2 linked regions of the Homo sapiens genome follow. The protein of the gene in region 2 purifies or fractionates together with the protein of the main gene of each other region. This does not show direct contact. Each region holds a gene or a part of one and is shown on either strand. Other genes may lie near its edges.

Evidence for each region.
Region 1: the proteins of FAM3A (region 2) and HS6ST2 purify together in Homo sapiens (affinity purification with mass spectrometry; one large-scale study listed by BioGRID and IntAct). This does not show direct contact.

The regions. Positions count from the first base shown.
Region 1 is NC_000023.11:132,671,923-132,675,737, forward strand, and holds part of HS6ST2 (heparan-sulfate 6-O-sulfotransferase 2), read right to left. Parts: intron 1-3,815. UniProt on the Homo sapiens protein: 6-O-sulfation enzyme which catalyzes the transfer of sulfate from 3'-phosphoadenosine 5'-phosphosulfate (PAPS) to position 6 of the N-sulfoglucosamine residue (GlcNS) of heparan sulfate.
Region 2 is NC_000023.11:154,513,875-154,517,789, forward strand, and holds the start of FAM3A (protein FAM3A isoform 1 precursor), read right to left. Parts: upstream 2,359-3,915; 5' UTR 1,899-2,358; coding exon 1,886-1,898; intron 1,842-1,885; exon of another isoform or gene 1,606-1,841; intron 1-1,605. UniProt on the Homo sapiens protein: May act as a defensin against invading fungal microorganisms.

The sequences.
Region 1 (3,815 bases), about 22 Mb from region 2:
TTTGTAGATGTACTAATGACTGTGGTATAGAAAAGTTTACCTAACATTGACAGAAAAAGTCTTCATTCCTCCACCAAAATCCAGGTCAGTTAGATAAGCCTGGGCAAGATGCCATAATTCTGAAACTTTGAGAGAGAAGGAGATCTAAAGCAGTGATATCAAGGACACTGCAGTTTCTAGAAGGGTCCCATGAAAAATAAAGAGAAAATACTGCAGCTGCAGACTGTCTGGGAACTTCAAAGATCTTTGGGGCAAAGACCTAAAGATTAAGATCCTGCCAAGAACTCTGGTCACTGAAACATCCCGCAATCCCAGGGATTTACAAGAATAAATCCAACCTGTTTCAAAGACACATAGATATAATTTTGGATATATGAGATTGGTGGGGGGGGGTGGGTGCTCCTTGATTTAGAGTTCCTAACTTACATAACCGAAACAGATCTACCCCAGTAGTTATTCTTTTGATTTGCCCATCTCTAGACTACTTGTCAGCCCTCATCACTTTCATCTTGTCTTTGAATTGTAATCTCAAACCTTATGTCCTACAATTTCCAAGGCTATGGATCCAGGCTTCCTCTACCTCACCTGAGTAGCTATCCTTTTCTATGGATAAGCTGCTTTCCTCTCTCTAGTGCCTCACAACCAAGCCTCATTAAAGGCCTGTGAAAACAATTACAGGTGAGTTTCTGTTGGGAAAAGTTAATGAGTGCTAGCTCTCCTTCTGTCTGGTTGGCTGTCCATCTCCATCTGTCAAGAAAACCCTTTCCCACAGGTTCCATAAATGTCTCCAGCACTACAAAAGTGAAAAAACAATTTGCAGTATTATGCACATTCTATTCAGGTGGGAAAATTGCAACTAACCCAACTCTTCAGCATTTTCAGTGTTTCTGATTGAATGATTTGATGCTGAAATGGTATCCAGTGTACTTAAACCAAAATGGCAATCAGACCCACTCCAATCTGAGTTTTGCTGTTTGGTCAAAGCTAATTGTGGGAGAAGAACCCTGTGGCTTAAAACACACCTGACTCACTTTTTTGATGGGTGGCATATAGAAACTTCTGCATCTCCTTTGTAAGCTCTTTTCGGAATTAATTCATCTCAGATCCCTGAAAAATAGTTGTGCTGATACAACTACAATAGTACTGAAATTTTAAGAATTAATTTTCAGGGTCCCAGGAAATTGAAATTGTATTTCAAGAGAACAGGTTTGGCTATGATATTTATTGTCTACATATCTTTTACTAGGCACTTAGCATGTGGTGCTCGTAGTGTTGCTTATATTTTATTATTTATCTGTCTCTCCAACTCACTTTTAAATGGGCAGTCAAGAGGTATTCATTGAACAAATAAATGAAAAAGCTGCATTTGGGCTCAATGGAAAGAAGTGTCATGATTGAGTATTAATGTCTTGCACCAGTTTGAGAGAAGGAAGTGGTGACACATGTCACATATCTTCCATCCCTGAAGAGGAATGGTCTGGGAGAATTGGACTCCAGTCACTGAAGGTTGGTCATCATGTGCATCACAAAAAACGTGAGCTTAGAAAGGATTCTCAAGCAAGCTTGCTTGGATGGTTGCAGAGTGCCTCTGAAATAACACATCTGTTGCATTTGTATAGTCCTTAATGTTTTCCAATGTGTGTTCTTGTAAGTGATAACTGAGATGAAACCCACTTTATTGTTGAGGGTTTGTTTCAAGTCTCTCTGAGGGAAATACTGGCTATTCTTTACTCCCTAGAGATGCCTCTAGGCTCCTGAACACTCCCTGACTGAAAAAATGCACTTAAAACAGACTCTCCCAGGGATAAAAGCTCATCTAGTCGGCCTCCCCAACAGGTGCTTCAGGCCCCTCTCCAACAGATACACCAAGTCGTCATCTTTTGAAAGGTTTTTCAATCGTGGTTGTTTCCCCATGAAAACTTGCTTTTCTCTTTTCTAAGAGACTCACATTTCTGAAGTATGTTTGCCCTTGTTCTATTGTTGAGCAAGACACCTCTTCAAATATTGATTTCCTTTAATTAAAGCTGATAATACTTTCGCATTTCATTTTTTTCTATCTTGTTAGGTTATGTCCTGAGTGGTTTTCTTTGTTCCAAACTTTTTCACTTCTTTTGCCCGAGGTGTCTAAATTAGAGTCCTTGCCCCTTTAAGTATCTTACGCTCATTATCTATATTTCTGATAATCACCTGGCAAAGATAGTTCAGTTCATTGAGATGTGCTTTTATTTAGCATCCTCTTCTAGTTTCCCTTTGCCTAACTATGGATAATAACAGGATTTCTGAGGGAAGGGAAAAGCTCATTTTTATTGCTATGAAGCCCAGTGTAACTATGATCTCTCAGAAGCAGCCTCATAAGTTCAAAGCATTTATTCAGGAATCCCAGGTTCTAATCCTGGCTGCCAGCAAGGCATTTAACTTCTTGCTGTCTTAGTCTTCTTATCTACAAAGGAGAGGGAATTATACTGATCAGGTAAACCATTCACAATGAAGCTCACAGTTACTCTGGAATTGAAAAGCTCTTGGAAAAGGCAACCAGGGCGCTCACATTATCTTGCCCTCTCCCATTCCATTAACTTTTCACTCTAGCAGCTCACCACAGGGCATCAGGGACTGCAGCAATGGGCTCATTTATTTTTGTTGCTATTTTGCTCTCTTCACCTCTTGGTACATGTTGTTTTTGCCCAGAGAGTGACAGTCACGTCCCTGAATGCCTCATTGGGATCAAGAAAGAACATGAGTCAGTTTCTAAATTATATTATTTTCTCATTTAAGCTGACTAATCCCATGTGTCTTTACCAACAGTATGGACCGTAGTTACAAACTATCAGAGGCCAATAGAACGGTATCTAACAATTGTAAGTGGTATTATAAAACTGTTGCGTTCGCATCTAACTCTGGGCTTCTCCATCACATCAGGGATTGAGGAGCAGAAACCATAGTTATGGAATTGGATGGTTTGGGGTAATTGAGATCTGAAATATAATGAGAGGCTGGGCTGGAATGGCAGTTATAGGGGTGGAAAATAACTATGCCTGGCATGGCAAAAGAAAATATGACAGAACTTGGGGATTGACTATGTTTGGGGAATGAGAATAAACCCTAAATGAAAGTCACTGAGAAGGTTTGCAAGTTGGATGACTGAGAACAAATTTACTCTGCCAGTGAAAGAGAGAGTAGTTGGGAGGGAGATCTGGACTAGAGGAGAAGATGACGGATTCAGTTTGGGGCCTATCGAGTTGGGGTATTGATGGACAGTGTCCCAGTAGGCAATTAGAGAAATGGAACTGGAGCTCAAGAAGAAAGACAAGGCAGATGTGCGGTCATTGCTCCAAAGTGGGACTCAAAGCCATGAGATAAACAGTGAGGCCTGATGAGACAGTGATCCACTATGATTAAGGAGTGTTTCAAGAAGCATCCTATGCCAGAATCTGTTTACTCCCACCCCACTCTATGAGGATTTACAACTGCGTTACAAAGACTTGTATGCCAGAGGTCCAAGTAAAAGCATCTAAATCAGGTAACTTAGTTATGTAGAGATTAATGCTAAGGTTAATGAGGGAAAGTGAAGGCCTCGTTCCTGGTGCAGGCCAGTGGCTTTCTTCATCCCATGCCCATAGTCTGCTTCTCCCCATTCTCCCAGCCCACCCAGATTGCTTACAGATGACAAGGCAAGCTGGGTACCAAGAGATTGGTGGCAATCATTGGCAGCCCATTCCTATAACAAATACCTCACAGAGTACATCCTATGCTGTTTTCACCTTGGTGTAAGAAGGACACTCTGGCAAATGAGCAAAATTGAGCTTTCTACCTTGGCT
Region 2 (3,915 bases):
AAAGTCATCTATACTCATTCCATCATCTCACCTCCTACTCCCTCCCACCCTACTCCAGTCTGGCCTGGCTTCCACCACCTCACCAAATCAGCTTGTTGCCAAGGCCACTGATGACCTTTGTGGTGTCACCACCCCTGGTGACCTGTCAGCCTTGATCTTCCTTGACCTCTCAGTGGGCTGCCCATGTCCACCTGACAGAAGCACTAACTTCTCTGCTGGCTTTCCGGACAGCACACTCTCCTGACCCAATCTCTCTGGACACTCCTCATTCTCCTTAGTTAGATCGTCTCCTCTACCCTCCCCTTAAAAGCTGGACTTTCCCAGGCTCCCATCTCAGGCTGCCTTCTGGTCCCTACCTGTAGTGTCTTTTTATTTTTTTTATTTTTGAGACGGAGTCTTGCTCTTGCCCCCCAGGCTGGAGTGCAATGGCGCGATGTCGGCTCACTGCAACCTCCGCCTCCTGGGTTCAAGCGATTCTCCTGCCTCAGCCTCCCAAGTAGCTGGGATTACAGGCGCGCACCACCGTGCCTGGCTAATTTTTTTTTTTGAGACAGAGTCTTGCTCTGTTGCCCAGACTGAAGTGCAGTGGCGTGATCTTGGCTCACTGCAAGCTCCGCCTCCCGGTTACACGCCATTCTCCTGCCTCAGCCTCCCTGGTAGCTGGGACTACAGGCGCCCGCCACCACGCCCGGCTAATTTTTTTGTATTTTTAGTAAAGACGGGGTTTCACCATGTTAGCCAGGATGGTCTTGATCTCCAGACCTCGTGATCCGCCCGCCTCGGCCTCCCAAAGTGCTGGGATTACAGGTGTGAGCCACCGCACCCGGCCATGCCTGGCTAATTTTTGTATTTTTAGTAGAGACGGGGTTTCACCATCTTGGCCAGACTGGTCTCGAACTCTTGACCTCAGGTGATCCACCCGCCTTGGCCTCCCAAAGTGTTGAGATTACAGGCGTGAGCCACTGCGCCCAGCTGTCTTTACTTTTTTGAGACGGAGTCTCGCTCTGTCGCCCAGGCTGGAGTTATGCGGTGGCGCAATCTCGGCTCACTGCAACCTCAGCCTCCCGGGTAGCTGGGATTACAGGCACCCGCCACCACGCCAGGCTCATTTTTTTGTATTTTTTTAGTAGAGATGAGGATTCACCATGTTGGCCAGGCTGGTCTCGAACTCCTGACTTCAAGTGATCCTCCCACCTCGGCCTCCCAAAGTGCTAGGATTACAGGCGTGAGCCACCGCGCCCGGCCTGTAGTGTGTTTTTAGATGATGTCATCTACTCCTAGCTCTTTAATTAAGCACCATGTGTCAATGACTTTCTATTTTCTAGTTCCAGCCGTGGCCTCTCTTGAAACCACTCCCTGCCAGCTGGTTCCTCAGTGGCCAGCTCCACCTGGATATGTCCACAAAGTTACCACCTTAGCAAGTCTGAAGTCCAATTCCCGAGTTGTTTCTACTCTCCACCCAGCCCCAACCTATCCCTCCCCAAGGATCTTCATCTTACTTGTCCAGGTGACAGTAGGGCTGTCATCGGGTTCATGTCGAAGCCCACAGCCACTTTTGTCACTTCCCCTCTAAGACCACGCCTCTCCACCTGGACTGCCCACCTCCTCTCTCTCACCACTCATTTTCCAAAAAGCAGCTGGTCTGCTACCTGCGTTGGGAGATACTGACTATACTAATCCTCATGTCATAGCTCGGGGAGCTGACGTCCTCAGAGGTGAAAGGATTTGGTTAAGGTCAAGGAACGAGTGTTTGTGCAGAGTCCTCCATTTCCAAAACCAAACCCAGTGGTTCACCCGGGCCTCTCCAGACACAGATGTCGCGACGCTGGGCCTCCAGCCAGGTGCCCTTTTCAACTCCCTCCCGTTCGCTGTGGAAGCCACCCACCTGCCAACCTCATGTCCACTTCTCCTGCTGGGTTGGGACCGCCGGCAAGTGCACTGTTTGGGGGCAAAGCGGAAGGACAGGTTTGGGTGGGGGTCAGGGGCAAGCCTGTGCGGGACCCCTGCTGGGGGCGGGCGCGATCGGTGCTACGACCTGTTTGTCCAGCCGCCCGGCCAGGCAGGGCTCCTCGGAAACGCGCGGGGAAACCCTGCCTGGCCAGGAGGGGCCTCAGGAACCCGTTGGCTCACGATCTTGCCCACAGGAGCCTCCGGGGCTGGGACGAAGATGTGGTTCTCCTGGGCTCGGGCCGTTCCTCCGGGCCTGGGGGCTGGCGATGCGGGCCGGGCCGGAGATTTCTCTGGCCGTGGGGAGACGTGGGCTCGGTCAGGGAGGTTCCCTGTCAGGCCCGCCGACCCGCTCCGCCCCGGGAGAGGACGCAAGGCCGCTGCGCAGGGTGGCCAGGCAGGCCCGGCAATGGCGGCTAAGGGCGGGGCCACAGCCCGCCGGCCCCGCCCCCGGCAGCAGCTGCGCCGTCTGGCTCCACGCAGGCCCCGCCTCCAGACCCGCCTCTACCGCTCGCGCTGGCCGCCGCATGGGAGGGGCCTGAACCTGTCCCGCCCCGAACCTGTCCCGCCCCTGGATCCCTCGTCGGCCCCACCTCCGCAGTGCGTTCAGGCTGAACCCACCGGCCGCCGAGTGGGAGGGGCCCACGTCGGTCCCGCCCCGGAAGTCTCCCCTCGGCCCTTTCTCGGGTGGGAGAGCCCTGCCTACCCAGGCTTAGAGGGCTGGGGCTGCGCTTGCACCCTGAGGTCAGATTTGTGAGTCGTGGGAAGACGCAGATGGATCTGGGGCAGAATTAGAACCTGTTCCAAAGTTGATCCATGCGCTTTGTAAAGGCAAGGGAGGTACAGAGGCGCAGATAGGGAAGACCGCAGGATCCAGCGTGAGCCTCTGGCTGCCTTTCCTTAGGGTCTGTTTTCTGTCCAGAAGCGCGTTCCTGCTGTCTCTCGTTATCACTTTTATAATGGGACGGGGCGTCTCAAACTATTTCGACATCCTTGAAAACTCTTGCCTGCTCCGCCTGCCTGGTCTCTAACACCCTCCTCCTCAGAGCTGCTCAAGCTGTGTTGTTTACGCCACACCCCACCCTAAAAGCAGAGGAGAATACAACTTTCGGGGGCAGTGGAGGGGGGAGTTTAGCGCTATAACCCGAGGCTTTCACAGCAAACCAGAATTTATTTTGAGGCCTCTCAGGTTCAGCTTTCAAGTCACGTGACTTTCGCGTCCTACACAACTCTTATTTTCACTTGAAAACAAGTGTGACGTCGTGAATTCCCTAACAATAGGAAAAAAGAAGGCTCCAGAAAGAGCGGTGCTTGGCTTTCCCAGCGGCTCCAAATGGTGCCCGGCACCCAGCTGGCTGTATGGACCTGGGGTGGTCTCCGGCCGCAGGCAGACGCGGCCCTTCGGCCTTTCTCCAGTCACCCCAATTCTCCCTGACTGCCTGGCTATCTCCCCTCCGCGCCTGCCCGCACGCTGCCCCCAACACTGCCCGGGCTCCCTCTGCCCATGAGAACACGGGTCAAGCTCCCGTCCCTTCTGCCCTGCCGGCTGCCCCAAGTGCGCCCTGACCACCTACTGCGCTGGCATGGCCGGGGCCACCCTGACAGCTGATCCATCATCTGTCTGGAGAGCAGCAGCAGGGCCCAATGAGAACCACGGAAACCTCCCTGCCCTTTGACCCAACTTACGGGAATCTCCTACCCTTAGGGAAACAATGCAAAATATAGAGAAAGTTTATAGAGCCGGGCATGGGAGAGCCCTGGTTAGAATCCAGCAGCTTCTATACTGGAGTACTCAACAGGGTCAAGGTCCCTTTCAGCTGCCTGCTGCTGGGGCCAGGGCTTTGCATTTGCGTTTTGTCATGGAATTTGACAGCCTCTCAAGTAATTATGGTAACGAATCTTGGGCTCCATGCCCTCCTCAGGGGGGCCCAGTCGAAGAAGCTCCAGGTTACTCACACCCTTGAGCTG